4 linked regions of the Homo sapiens genome follow. The protein of the gene in region 3 interacts with the protein of the main gene of each other region in a pairwise test. Each region holds a gene or a part of one and is shown on either strand. Other genes may lie near its edges.

Region 1 (3,734 bases), on a different chromosome or scaffold from region 3:
TTCGAGACCAGCCTGACCAACATGGAGAAACCCCGTCTCTACTAAAAATACAAAATTAGCCAGGCGTGGTCATGCATGCCTGTAATCCCGGCTACTCAGGAGGCTGAGGCAGGAGAATCACTTGAACCTGGGAGCCGAAATCGCGCCATTGCACTCCAGCCTGGGCAACAAGAGCGAAACTCCATCTCCAAAAAAAAAAAAACCAGACCCAACTCCCTACCTTCATGGAGCCTACATTATAACAAATAAATTAACAAAGAGGATAATAGCAGACTGAGAGAAACTCGAGGAGATCCTCATGTAGGGTTTTATGGTAGAGAATAGAATAATGAGGGGTGCTGCTTAGATATAGGGAAAAATTAAACCCAATTAAACAATTCTGACATTTATTGAGCTCACACTGTGTGCCGGGCAATACACTGGGTGCTAGGTGCACAAGAATGAGCACGGCTGGCATGGGCACTACCCTCACAATGATGTTTACCTCCTGCAGGGTGGGATGACAGAGACCCACAGACACAATCCCCGCACAGGTTTCTGAGACTCCCCCACTATTTGGCCAAATCACATAACCACTCTGGGTCTCAATTTCCTCATCTGTAAAAAGGAATACTAATAATATCTACCTCACAGGGTCGTGGTTAGCATTCAATGAGTTAATATTCATCAGGTGCTTAGCACAGTGCCTGGCACACAATAAGTGCTCCATCAGTGTCTGTTCAATAAGTAAAATAAATTTAAGGGACTCAGGAAAGAGGACAGGGGTTGAGTTGGAAACTGGGGGTCTTCGAGTACTGAGGGTAAATGTAGGCTCAAGTGATCACCCAGTGGGGAGATGGAAGAGTGAAAGTAGAAGAAAACCTAGCACAGGCCCTGAGCAATGATGGAAAAGAGAGGAGATGCCGGGAAAGTGTGGCCTGAGAGGCAGAGGGGCAGCCAGGTATCCATGGGTCCACAAAGGCAAGGGAGAAAAGAGTCTGGGGAAGGAGGGGGAGCTGGCAGCAAGGGACACTGCTTAGAGCCAGTCCTTTGGGGATCCACAAGACCACAACCATCCCCTGTGCCCCCTCCCCACGCCTCCCATGTCTAGAACTTTGGGTCCTAAGGCTCTAGCCCACAAGTCCCCTAGAAAAACAGTCTTGGCCCTGGGTCCCCCTGAGCAAAATCCCTCCCAAACTGCCCTAATACCCAAGGACCTCTCATTCCCTCTTAGGGACCCCCTCTCCTGACCCAGCCCACTAGAAACAGAAACTCAAACCCAGATGCAACTCCTAGCTCCATCATTTAGGAGCTGTACAACCTTGGGCAAGTAATAACCTTGCTAAGCCTCTGTTTATTCATCTGTAAAAAGGGTCTAATAATGCCTTCTTTAGAGAATTGCTGGAGGCTGTCATTAATGAGACATTTATGTAAACTGCTTAGTAGGTGACTAATAAGTGCAAGCCTCTTCCCTCAGGGCCTTTGCTACACAAAGGCATTGGCACCATTTGCTCAGTCTCAGGATCCTGGCCTCCAATCTGAGACTGTGCTCCAGAACTTCTCCCACAGACATTTTCTCTCTACAACCCCCACCTCTCCTCCATCACACCACAGGAAAGGCCTTAGTCCCAGGACACCTCCCCTCTTCCCTCACATACACACACCCTGTTCCAAGATCCCTTTACCCTCCTTTCTTTCTGTCTGTCTTTTCCTGTTATCTAGTCGCTGGCCTCTCCTCTGCTATGCATACATTTTTTTCTCTCGGGGACCTGAACTGGGGTGGGGGAGAAAAGTCAACATGAGATAGGGAGAAAACAAGGTTCAGATCTCAACTCTGACATTCCCTTGCCAGCTGTGTGACTTTAGGCAAGTTAATGCACTTCCCTGAGCCTCTGTTTCCGCCTCTGTACATTTCATTTGATAAACATTTCTTGAGTGTCTGCTAGGTGCCAGCACTGTTCCAGGGCCTGGAGATAAACGGAGGTGAAAACACAGGAAAAAGCCCTGCCCTCTTGTAGTTACAGCAAAAACCAAGATTAAAAAAAAAAAAAATACCTGGTATGTCAGATGGGTACCACTACTATCGAGAAAAGTGGAGCAAGGAAGCCAGGCTAAGAAGTGCTGGTTGAGAGAATGTTTCAATTTAATTTTAAGTAGGGAGATCAGGGAAGGTCTCAATGAGAAGGTGACAGTTGAGCAAAGCTTCAAGGAGATGAGGGAGGCCGGGCGCAGTGGCTCACGCCTGTAATCCCAGCACTCTGGGAGGCCAAGGCGGGCAGATCACAAGGTCAAGAGATCAAGACTATCCTGGCCAACACGGTGAAACCCCGTCTCTATTAAAAGTACAAAAATTAGCTGGGCGTAGCGGCGCATGCCTGTAATCCCAGCTACTCAGGAGGCTGAGGCAGGAGAATCGCTTGAACCCGGGAGGCAGAGGTTGCAGTGAGCCGGGATTGTGCCACCGCACTCCAGCCTGGTGACAGAGCAAGACTCCATCTCAAAAAAAAAAAAAAAAAAAAAAAGGAGATGAGGGAGTAAGACCCGAAGCTATCTAGGGGAAAAGCATTCCTGGCAAAGGGAACAGCCAGTACAAACAAAGATCCTAGGGAGGGAGGATGCCTGGCAAGTTCTAGAAATAATCAAGAGGCCAGAGTGCTTGGGTTGGAGTGAGGGATGAATAACACCTATCTCACCAGGATGTTTTGAGCAATCAGTGAAATGTGACTGGTACATAGTAGGTGCTCGATGAATGGTTATTTCCTCCTCTTCCTGGGGCCTTGTCAGAAATGGGGGGACCCATGATTGGGCTGGAGGGTTGAGGGTGTTCTGAGGGGCTGGGCCACACCTGCCCACCTCTGTTTGCAGGCTGCACCAAGTGTACTTTGATGCACCCACCTGCCGAGGGGGCACCACCAAGGTCTTCTTAGTTGGGGACTACTCCTCGTCAGCCGAATTCTTTGTCACCGTGGCCGTGTTTGCCTTCCTCTACTCCATGGGGGCTCTGGCCACCTACATCTTCCTGCAGAACAAGTACCGAGAGAATAACAAAGGGCCCATGCTGGTGAGTCCCCACAGCCACTTGCATGTAGGGACCATGGGGACACGGAACCCCAGGGACACAGCCATGCTCACAGACCACACCAAATCCCAGACAGGCCCACATGCAAACAGCCACCATAACAGCCACACATATAGTTGCTGCTGCTATTAATCCACACCAGGCATCCGGGACACAGAGTCATAGAGTCACGGAGACATACAGCCTATGCAGAATCCCAGACAGGCCCACACCTGAGAACCTTCCCACTCTCACACAACTACACAGCCTAGATCAAAGGAAGAGGCCCACAGAGGTTCGCTGTGACAGTCATGCCTGTCATCATGCCACACAGACACACTGATTCCTACACCACTGTACTCACATACCCTCAGCCTAGACACAAAATGACAAAAATTCCCACATGCAGACAAAAGTAGAAAGACACATTACTTTCCACAGATTCGGAAATCATCCCAGAGTTCCCCTCCCCCCAACACCCACAGCCACATATCACAATCACACTCCCACATCCTCTGTGTCATGTACACACACAAGCTCAAGCTGGGAGGGCCACCTTCAGGTGAAAGTGTTGTGGGCTTGAGAGCTGAAAAGGCAGGGGAGAGACAGGCCTCTTCTGGGGGACCTGTGATCCGAGGAGGCCCCAGGGCCTAGCGTGAAGCAGTCCACTCACAGTGCTGTCTTCCTCACCCCTGCC
Region 2 (3,734 bases), on a different chromosome or scaffold from region 3:
GTGTGGCTCTGCATTTACCACTTTCAAAAAATGTGCAGCGCGGCCAGGTGCAGTGGCTTATGCCTGTAATCCCACCACTTTGGGAGGCCAAGGTGAGAGGATGACTTGAGGCCAGGAGTTTGAGACCAGCCTGGGCAACATAGCAAGATCAGATCTCTACAAATTACAAAACAAAGGTGCAATGCGATTCAGCAGCGTGGAGTAATTGTTGATATTTTTTGTTTATTTCCTTACCTTTTTATACTTCCCTTCATTAAAAAAAATGGGGTATAGTTATAGGAAAGGAAGAAAATGGGTGGAAAGTGAACCTTGTCTAGGTAAGTATTTGACAAGTGATCAAAGAGGAGCCAAAAGCAGAGAAAAATAGGAGAATCAGTTCCTAAACAGGCGTGGAGGAAGGAGACAGTGACTCACAACAATTCAGGGAATTCCTCACTTCACACAGCATCACAAAAGAAATGGCACCTACGTTCCACTGGTGTATGCTACAAACCAAATCATTCTTTAAAAGTCCACAAAAAATTAGGTAGGATCATCTTATTTTATCCTGAAGGAAAGAACTTAAAAAAAAACAAATGTGTGTCCAGATTTCACACCTACTCAATGTCATATCAAAACTAGTGAATCGATGTGAATAACTGGATGTGTGTGTTTCTGTAATACAAAAGCACTTCTACACACTGACTCAGAAATCCTACTTCTTCCCAGAAGCCTCCTTACATACTTGATCAGAAATCTGGACAAAGATTTACTGTGAAATATGTTCAATGTAGTAAGAATTTTGAAGAACATTTAAAACTTCCGCTGTTTCAAGCAAGGGCTCCCTGACTTCTGTTAGGAGCACACGATGGAGACTGTGCAGCCTTATTCAGTCCTCAGTGAACCCTGTGACACCCACTCTATGCCTGTGGAGATCCAGGCTCTGGGGACACAGCAAGGACAGGACAGGGAGTAAGAAGCAGATGTCCTGCAGACTGGCACGGTCACCACCTCAGTGCAGCTGCTCCGTCCCCTGCAGTCCCCTGTCTCCCAAAGGCTCCATGTCCCCTTGGGCCAGGAAAGAGGAGGCACTGCCATGTCCCACTGTCTACAAAGTCCTGTGCAGGCTGCACGCCAGGCAGGGCACAGTCCCTCCTCAACTCACCAGCAGACGCTGTGGCTCCTCTGGCAACTCTACAGTCACACCTGTTAGCTCTGCCAGCTCCTGACCTTGGATTTCCTGCTCAGAGACCTGGGTGGGCTGCAAGTATCTGTTACTCAGGGTCTCGTTGCGGGCATTGTCCTCCGCCCCAGGAACTCGTGAAGGACATGAACGCCGCCGGAAAAGGACCTTGGGAAGACAAAGAGCCCACTCAAGTCCACACCCCGGGCTCAGCTTCAGGGTCCCCAGTACACAGCTGGACCTGCCATCCCCAACCCCTTCCAATGAGGTCACCCCAGGCAGCTGAGGCTCAGCACATCCAGGACCCCATGCTGAGGTGGGTCAGGTGGTCACCCCATCCCCATGGGGCCAGCTGTGGAGTGATGGTGTCACCGAGGCTGCAGGAAGGACAGGGCTGCAGCACGGCCTGCTGGTCTGTGTGCTGCTCAAAATGGCCGTGTGTCCCCCACAGTCAGCCCAGATCCCCCAGGCCATGTCAGAGAGTCAGGGCAGCCATGAGGACAAGGGATTGTGCCCACCCAGGCTCGGCAGTGGATGGGAAGCAGTTCCTGAACCCACGAAGCCCCCAGTTTCTGGAGAAACCAACTCACTCTGTGCACACGTTCGGGACCTCCTCCACCACCTGGAAAAGAAGCAGTCTCCTGAGCAGGCGGGGAGGGGCCCATGCAGCACCTCCCTCCCAGAGGACAGTGGGGCGCAGGGCTGGCTGGGGGCTGGGACACTGGACAAGGAGCCCTGGGGCTGGGGACAGAATGGGGCCTTGCAATTAGGGGACACCCTGAGGAAGGGGGATGAGAAGGGGAACTAGAGTAAAAACCAACACGTGGAAAATCTCTGTGTTCTGCTCTGACCAAGGCTGAATAAATCCCACGACCACTTCTCATCCTGACCCTTGTCACCCAGTTGAGGAGCTGACTGCCCCCTGCCTGGCTGGGCCTGAAGATAGGAGGAACTGGCCCTGCCCTCCTGGAGTTGGCTCCGGGAGATGAGGGGTCCCCCAGCCCTGAGAGAGGGACTGATGAGACCAGGGTCCTTGGGGATACACAGGACGTGGGGATGGGGCGATCACAAGAAGGAAGACCAAGCCAGGCTGGAGACGCTTGGACCAGGGGCAGGGATGGGGATTACTGTCTGTGGGAACGGAGTGGGAGAGGGCAGGGCAGACAGTGCCCAGCGCTCCCACCCTCAGCCAGCACCTACCTGAGCAGATGCCTTTGAGGTAAGAAATGAATTTCTTCCGACATGAAAAGCCAACCACAACCACAGCTAAAATGATGACTAAAACCACTATGATGATAAGGTAGTGATAGGGAGAGGCAAGCATCCCCAGGATGGTGGTCACTGTCTCCTCCGCTGCTGGGGTTTTCCCAGTGGAACTGGCAGCTGATTCATTTTTGCACTTGATGTCACTCCGGGGCGTACAATTACTGACCTTGACCATCCCTCTGGGACACCTGGGTACACACAGAGAGGGAGACAGGGACTCTTGATGGAAAGCTGGCCAGGTGGGATGAAAGAGGAGCCACCCTCCCTGCCCAAAGTCCCTGAGAAGGCGTCAGGAGGACAGGCTCCTCGTGTCAGCAGTGGGTCCCCCTGTGCTCCCTTCTTGAGGCTGGGGAAGGGTCTGAGCATGCACACTTCAGCCCCTCGGCCTCCCTGCTCTGGGGTCAGAGCTGTAGATCCAGGAGCCTTCTGTGCTGGGCACACACTGAGCTTCCCTGGGCTGCAGGGGAGGCCTGCGTTAGGAGGAGCCGCACTCCAGGGGAAGATCACAAGCCCCTGTGGCCACAAGCTGAGCCCCTTCCTCCAGTTAACACACAGTACAAGTGAGTCCTCGCCCCACCCTGTCTGCCGCTGGTTCCTCCCAACCACAGCAAACACTGGAGGGCCAGAGAAGAGCAAGTTACTCTTTGCCCCTAAAACCCAAATAGGATAAAGAAGGACTTAGTGAGAAATCGGGGGCCAGGGGTGAGGCCGGCTGGGTGGGCTCAGGTCCTCATGGGAACTTAAGGGAGCTCCACCCATGGCCTTATTATGACTTTTGTGGGCTACGGACACTTTTGTCTTTATGGGTCCCTGCCCACATAAAAAATATTAAAAATTACATTTTTTAAACCAACTTAGAGTAAGGAAAAATACAAGCCAGGCTGGATTCAAGTGTTTTCTTCTGATTTCAAAAGGAAATTACATTTCCTAGGTTGCCTGAAAAGGTTCAAGGGACCTAGAAAGTCACCTCCTGTGCCCAGTGAACAATTCAGCCTGGACAAAGGGACTCCTGCTGGGGAGGGTATGGGAAGGGGCTGCTGCAGGGGGTAGGGGTGGGGACAGGCAGATGGACCAGGAGGGGCCAACGCAGGCTCAGGAAACCCCACAGGCTCAGGGAGGCCTCGGGCCTGGAGGATCCATGGGGTCAGCGGAGAGATAGAGGTACCAGGTGAATCAGGTCTTTTCAGGTTCCTGAAAGCTGTTGGGAGCCCCTGGCTGCTGTCTTACCCTGTTCTACACGTCCGGCACATCTCAGGGGAGTTTTTATCCTGGAAGCTTCCTTTTTCACACTGACACACGGTGTCTC
Region 3 (3,734 bases):
AATTCTCTTGCCTCAGCCTCCCGAGTAGCTGGGATCACAGGCATGCGCCACCACACCCAGCTAATTTTGTATTTTTAGTAGAGACAGTGGTTTCTCCATGTTGGTCAGGCTGGTCTCGAACTCCCGACCTCAGGTGATCCACCCGCCTCGGCCTCCCAGCTTCTCTTGGAATTTTAAAGCTGTTTGTAGTTATCAGAGCTAATGCTGCTTTAGACAGCTTCTCTCTGTTCCTCTTGGTTAAACTTCCTGAAGTTTGTCTCCATTACAGGTTTTTGCAAACAGCCAGCCCTTCGTGTCTCTGAGTTGTTGTTTATGCTGGTTAATCCTTACATCTTTTTGCTTTGTTGGGTTTTTTCTTGTAGTTCTGGTTCCTGGCGTGTTCCTTAACCCTGCAATGGAGGCTGTGGCTCTGCTGTTCCTTGGGCTGCGTGCCATGGATCTGCCTCTCTCTGCTTTTGTTGCTGTTCATTTCTGAGTCGTTTGTAATTCCAGCCTCGATGCCCCCTTTAACCCTGTGGTTATTTAAAAGGGTGTTGACAGATTTTTCAGTGCACACAGATTGGGCGAGGGGAGCAAATTTTTTTGTAGTTACTTTAAAATTTGATTGCATTAAGGTCTAATGGTAAGGACTGAAGGAGTTCTGCTTTTTGGAATCCTTTGAGACTTCACTGTGGCTAACACAGTCCCTTTTTGTGACTGTTGCAGTGTAGTGCTAGAAGAATGTATCCTCACCACTCCTTGGTTATATTGTTCCCGCCTGAAGCTGGGCACTTGCTTACTTGTGTTAGTCAGCGGACCAGAGCGTTCCCTAGCTTCTTGTCAGGCTCTCGGTCTGCTGATTTCCAGGAAAGGTGAGGTAGACCTCCCCTGTGGTTCTGGAGGTGCCCGTTTCTGCTTGTATGTCCAAGTTTTGCTTTCTGCCTCAAGACCATGCTGTTTGATGCATAAGTTTTCCTGTTACCAACACAAGAAACTCCTTTTTGTCCCGTTTAACGTCTTATTTCTTCATTTCCTTATTTTCAACCTTTTCATCTTATTTTATAGTTATATTTTTAACTCAATCCAAAAGTCTTTTTGTAGAGTAATTTAGTCATTTACAATTGTGATTACTGATAAGTGGGAATTCGGGCCTACCTTTTTAATTTGTTAGGCTTCCTCACCGTTTTCTTATTATTCTTCTAGTGGATATGTTTCAATTTTTTCTTTTCTTTTTTTTTTTTTAAGAGACAGGGCTTTGCTCTGTCACCCAGGCTGGAGTGTGGTGGTCCTATCACAGCTCACTGCAGCCTTGACCTCCTGGGCTCAAGCCATCCTCCCACCTCAGCCTCTCGAGTAGCTGGGACTACAGGCACATACCACCACATCCGGCTAATTTTTAAAATTTTTTGTAGCAATAGGGTCTTACTATGTTGCCTGGGCTGGTCTTGAACCCTTGGCTTCAAGGGATCTTCCCGTCTCAGCCTCCCAAAGCTCTGGGTTTATAATTGTGAGCCACTGTGCCCAGCCCATCTTTCAGTTTTAAAAACAAACACGTGAGCCCCTCTTTGTGTAACTGTTGAGAGCTGATCGGTCCTGTGTGCCACCTTCCCTAGGTGGAGGCTGTATGTCATCTTAGTTCCGGTGCTTCTTATTCCCCCATCAAGCAACCATGATTATTAGATTGAAGTATACATTTTACTGGTTACTTTATTTACCATTGTTTGCTGTATCCAAGTTTCCCCTCCTTTTTGGCAGTATTTAATGACTTTTTTTTTTTTTTTTTTTTTTTGAGACAATCTCAGACTGGAGTGCAGTGGCATGATCTCGTCTTACTGCGGCCACGACCCCCTGGGCTCCAGCGATCCTCTCACCTGAGCCTCCTGAGTAGCTGGGACTACAGGCATGTGCCATCATGCCCGGCTAATTTTTTGTGTGTTTTTTTGTTTTTTTGTTTTTTTTGTTTTTTGTTTTTTTTTTTGTAGAGATGGGGTTTTGCCATGTTGGCCAGGTAAGCCACCGCACCCAGCCATGACTTTAAAAAAAAAAAATCCTATTCCAGTACAGTTTTGAGGGGGGCGCTGGTGACTGTTGTGGCAGTCCCAGGGTAGATGGCGATGGCTCAGACTTTAGGGAGGAAGTGGCGGTGGTAGCAATGCTGGAGTACTGGCTGGGTTCAGGGGGTTGAGAGGCAAAAGATCAGCAGGCCAGCTACAGGGATTAGGCTTGAGCACCTGGAGGATGCTAAGTGGGAGAGGCTTTTGGGGAGGAGCAGGAGATGGGGGTGAGGAACGGAGTTTGAGATGCTCTTGGGTGCTGAGGCCAGAGTTTGAACAGGCAGTCTGAGGCCAGCAGCTGGCCTCTGGGATTTGGGCATGTGAGTGTGGGGGTGGAGGGCAGAGGTGTTTGAAGCCTTGGGGGGTCGAGTGTGGTTCTAGGCTGGGCTTCAGTGCCCGGCCCAGGAGCAGGCCTCGCTGAGAGAGGGGCAGCCGAGGCGGGTCCAGGGGAAGGCTGAGGGGTTGTTCAGGAAAGAAGGGTGACTTGCTGTGCTGGGTGCTACTCTGACCAGAATGGAGAGAAGGGGGCTGGATGTGCCCCAGGATAGTGGAGAGAAGGGGGTTGGATGTGCTCCCAGGGTCGCTGGTTACTGGAATCTCACTGGAGAGGCTGGTGGAGCTGGGCGGAGAGGGGGCCAGTGATGAGGGGTCAGGGCCAGGTTTGGCCGTGAAGTGGAGTGAGGCAAGTAGACAGGAGCCAGAGGGAGTGTGGCTCCAAAGAGAGTGTGTCAGTGGGGAGGGCTGTGAAGGGCCAGGCTCTGGAGAGCAAGGGACAGGTGCAGGCACCACCCTGCATGCCTTGTGCCCCTCCAAAGGTGAGGCCAGGCCACGGCTGGGCATGCGGTGTGGGCACAGGGGTGGCAGGAGCGAGGGTGTGGTGGGGAGAGGACATCCTCTCCCTGGGGTTGCAGTCTGTCACGCCGGCGTCGCAGGCCCTGGGGTCTGCACTCTGTGGTTCTTGCTGTCCGTGTGGATTTGTTCTTCAGTGACAGACTCTTTGGGTCATTCTTTAGGGATTTATGTGGAAAGCGCCGCACACTTGTCTATTCAGCTCGCTAGCCAGTGTCTGCTTTTGGGCAGGTTCCCCAAACTGAAGGATGCGGGCCAGTGGGCTTCAGAGGTGGGTTGAAGCCACGCTCCAGAGGCAGTGCCCGGTGGCGTTCTGTGGACGTAGTGTTCTTCTCCGCCAGCAGCGATTCCTTGAGGGTACATTGTTAGCACGTCTATGAACCACGTGTTCGCGGTCTTGCTTGCCCACTGAGTTATAAACGTTCTTGATACAGTAAGGATACCAACGCCTGTTAAATATTATTCACCTGTTTCCTAAGTTCAGCAATTTAACACTTGCTTCAAAATCTGTTTTCTTTTTATTCCTTTATGGATTCATTATCTACATATAATTCTTGAAATCTGGATTGTCAAAATCCAAGTACAAAACAAGTGAACCTTAATGTAAACTATGGACCCTATTTGTAGCAATGAATCAGTATTGGTTCGTAACTTGAGACACACATACCCACACTAATGCAAGATGTTAATCATAGGGGAACAGGGCAGGGGGTGAGAGGGTGAAGGAATTCTCTGTACTACCTGCTGGATTTTTCTGTCCTAAAAACAATCTGTTAATAAATAATAAATGGAAGCTGAAGAGTTTGGAGAAGTGCAGACAAAACAGGAATGTCAGAAGAGTGATAAATGGTG
Region 4 (3,734 bases), about 200 Mb from region 3:
TTATTGGAAAAAAAAATTTTTTTGGTAATGACTGAATTGATCAGATAGGTCTCATCTGTTGCGCCAGAGAAATTGTCTAATGTCAAACTGTGCTTGTAATTTCTAGTATAATCTCAATTTGGTTGTAATACATAATTTTATATTTGTTGCAATAGCTTGATTGATATTTTATTGAGGATTTTTGCATTTATGTTTATGTGTAAGATTGGCCTATAATTTTTATTTTTTGTAATATTCATGTTTGGTTTTTGTGTCAGTTATATTAGTTTTATAAAATAAACCTGAGGGGCATTCCATCTTTAGTAATTCTTTAGAAGAATTTGAATAAGCCTAATTATTTGGATATATGGCAGATTTCACAATAAAACTATTCTATGTGTGCATGGGAGAGACAGAATTAGAGCAAGAGATAGAGAGCAAGTTGCAGTAGATACATAATTCTGATGTAATTCATTTAATGGCTATAGCAACATTTGAGTTTTTGTTCTTATAAAGAATAACATAAAGATAATAGCTTTATACCTTTATAAAAGCTGTATATTATTTGTTACCATAAAGCTCCATCTTTTAAATTACATAATTTGGTGGTTTTTATTTGCAGAGTTGCCCATTTTTAAATTGAATTATTTGTCTTTTTATTGTCGAATTGTTAAGAGTTTTATATATATTTTGTATACAAGTCTCTTATCAGATATATGATTCATAACATATTTTCTTCTATTCTGTGGGTTTTTTCACTTTTTTAATGGTATCTTTTGAAGCACCTAAGTTTTTCATTTTGATAAAGTCTAATTTATTCATTTTTTTCTTTTGTCACTTGTGCTTATGATGTCATGTCTAAGAAACCATTGCTTAATCCAAGATCACAAATATTTGCTCCTATGTTTTCTTATGAGAAAGAAAACATATACATATAAAATGTTGTCAAACATTTTATAGTTCTAGCTCTTACACTTAGGTTTGATACATTTTGAGTTAATTTTTATATATGATAGGAAGTGAGAGTTCCTTTTTTGCATTTGCTTATCCATTTGTTCTAGCACTATTTGTTGAAGAGTATTGTTTCCTCCGCTAAACTGTCTTGGCACTCTTATCAAAATAAACTGATCATAATTTTAAGAAATTATTTCTGGACGCTTAATTTTGAATAGATGATCCATAATGTCTATTTCATATGTCTTACCCCAAGGACTAAAATATATTCGTCTGTATTTTGTACTAGATTTTTAAAATATATAACATTTTCTTAAACTATCCAGTTATGTTTTTTAAAAATATAAGGTAGAGTTTCAATTTCATCTTTTTCCATAGAGATAACAATTTTTCCCATCTGAATGCCTGAATTTCCTACTGATCTTACATGCCAACTCTCCCATGTACCACATTTTCATATGCATGTGGGTCTGTTTCTAGGCTCTGTTCTATCATTCACTCATCTATTGCTGTACCAATACCACACTGTCTTTAATTATTATAGCTTCATAGTAGGTCCTAAAATCTGGTGGGGTAAGTCTTCTCTCCTTGCTCCCTTTAAGAGTGCTTTGGCTGTCCTGGGCTCTTTGCTTTTTCATATAACTTTTAGAATCATCTTATTTAATTCTACAAAAATTCCTATTAGGCTTATAAAGTTTGAATTGCATTGAATCTATAGATTAACCTGGAAAGAATTCACATATTTATGATATTGGGTCTTCTAAACCATGAACGTGATATATTTCTCCATGAATTTAGGTCATTTTAGAAACATCTTTTAATATGCTTTTATAATTTTCTCCATTGAATTTTCACATATCTTTTGTTAGATTTATTCCTAGCCATTTGATATTCTCTGAGGTCACTGCAAATTGAATATTTTATTTAATTATGTTTGTAGTTTTTTGCTGATATGTAGAAATTAAACTGACTTTCATATGTTAATATTATATTCAGCCAATTTGCTATACTCTCCTATTAATCAAAATTTGTAGAATTTTTATTTTTATGTAAATAATCATAACATCTGCAATAATAAGAAGATTACATTTGAACAAAGATATGAAATATGCAAAGAAATAAACTATATGAATATCTGGAGAAGAACATACCAGGCAGAAGAAAGAAAAAATACAAAGGGTTTAAAGCAGGAACATGACTGATATGTTCAAGGAATATCAAGGAAGTTAGAGTTTCTGGAATGCTGTGAGCAAGCAGGAAAGTGATAGAAGATAAGACCAGAGGTATTGGCCAGATTATGTTAGGCCTTGTAGACCCCTGAAAGGACTTAGGTTTTCACTCTGACTTGGACATCTGATGGAGGGTTTTGAGCAAAGGAGTGACGTGATCTGAGTTATTCTTGCTACTCTGTTGAGAATAGAATATAAGGGTCAAGGACTAAAGCAAAGAGGTGTGATAAGGGGTCATTGCAGTAATCCAGATGAGATGATGGAGGCTTAGACCAAGGTGGTAGTGGGGAGAGGTGGGGAGAAGTGGCTAGATTCTGGATGTATTTTGACGATAGAACCAGCAGGATTTGCTAACAGACTGGGTATTGCTTAAGAGAAAGAAAAAAGCATCAAGGATGATTCCAAGTTTTTTGGTTTGAGCAATTGGAAGAGTAGAGTTTCCGTTAGTAAAGAATGTTATTGAAGAAGTGGGAGATCAGTTCATACAGTATCTTCTTTGTAAGGCATATGAAAGAAATTTAAGAACTTGCTTTGTTAGTTTTTTTGTTTGTTTCTATCTAACGGGAGCTGCAAGTTGTGAAGCTGATTGCATTGCATGCTAGAAAATGAAGAACATTTGTGTCCTTTGTAGCAAAGGTATAGCTATCTAAAATTTGTGTGTTTTTTATATTGACTTCATTCACATTTGGCCTTTGTCTTTTTTCACTATTTCTAATTTATTCTCTTATATGTTATATATCCTTGTATACCTCCTTAAAACCTTTTTAGAACAGGCAGAGTCTGAATTAATAAAAATAAGTTGTTTGTATTGTTTGCTGGCAAAAATGAAATGTAGGCAATAGTATTAATTTTTAAAAACCACGTTAAAGTTTAAACTTAGATCATCTTGAACTATAAATATGTGTTTTTGTGAGTTTACACACACAGTTTTGAGTGCCTGCTGAGTTCCTACAACTGTATCATCCATTCAGCAAATTCAGTGAATAGTGCTGTTCTAGGCACTTGATACATCAGTTAATGAACCTACCATCAGGGAGCTTGCATTCTCCTGGGGAGGATACTGACAAACAGCACATGTAGTAGATTAGTAAATTATACAGTATGTTAGAAGGTAATACATGCTATGGGAAAAGAAAAAAGCATTATGAGGGAGGTTAGAGATGAAGGGAATGTGGGGATTGAGGTATTAGAGTGGTCTGGATGGGCCACATTGAGAAAATGAAATTGGAGCAGAGACTTGAAGGAGGTGAGGGCGTGAGTTATGTGGCTGTCTAAGGAAACGGCGTTTCATTAAAGGGAACAGCAAGTGGAGGTTCCGAGGTAGGCACGTGATTAGAATATTGAAGGAGCAGCTAGGTGACCTGTGTGTATTTGAATAAGAAGAGTAGTAGGAAATGAGATCAAAGAGGTAACGAGATCGTGGGCAAATTGCGCAGGGACTTGTAGACTTCTGTTAGGACTGGAGCTTTTTCTGAGTGAAAGCACGTGCCACTGCAGAGTTTCAAGCATAAGAGGGGCATGATTTGACTTGCATTTTAAAAGGAATGCTCTGGCTATTATACTTAACTTTCA

Evidence for each region. The genes of interacting proteins can lie anywhere in the genome.
Region 1: the proteins of THAP4 (region 3) and SYP interact in binary tests that used the Homo sapiens proteins (3 or more experiments, as listed by UniProt).
Region 2: the proteins of THAP4 (region 3) and TNFRSF10D interact in binary tests that used the Homo sapiens proteins (3 or more experiments, as listed by UniProt).
Region 4: the proteins of THAP4 (region 3) and RMDN2 interact in binary tests that used the Homo sapiens proteins (3 or more experiments, as listed by UniProt).

The regions. Positions count from the first base shown.
Region 1 is NC_000023.11:49,193,472-49,197,205, reverse strand, and holds part of SYP (synaptophysin), read left to right. Parts: intron 1-2,844; coding exon 2,845-3,040; intron 3,041-3,734.
Region 2 is NC_000008.11:23,143,306-23,147,039, forward strand, and holds part of TNFRSF10D (tumor necrosis factor receptor superfamily member 10D precursor), read right to left. Parts: coding exon 3,656-3,734; intron 2,617-3,655; coding exon 2,363-2,616; intron 1,785-2,362; coding exon 1,753-1,784; intron 1,331-1,752; coding exon 1,145-1,330; intron 1-1,144. UniProt on the Homo sapiens protein: Receptor for the cytotoxic ligand TRAIL. Contains a truncated death domain and hence is not capable of inducing apoptosis but protects against TRAIL-mediated apoptosis. Reports are contradictory with regards to its ability to induce the NF-kappa-B pathway.
Region 3 is NC_000002.12:241,626,960-241,630,693, reverse strand, and holds part of THAP4 (peroxynitrite isomerase THAP4), read left to right. Parts: intron 1-3,734. UniProt on the Homo sapiens protein: Heme-binding protein able to scavenge peroxynitrite and to protect free L-tyrosine against peroxynitrite-mediated nitration, by acting as a peroxynitrite isomerase that converts peroxynitrite to nitrate.
Region 4 is NC_000002.12:37,970,275-37,974,008, forward strand, and holds part of RMDN2 (regulator of microtubule dynamics protein 2), read left to right. Parts: intron 1-3,734.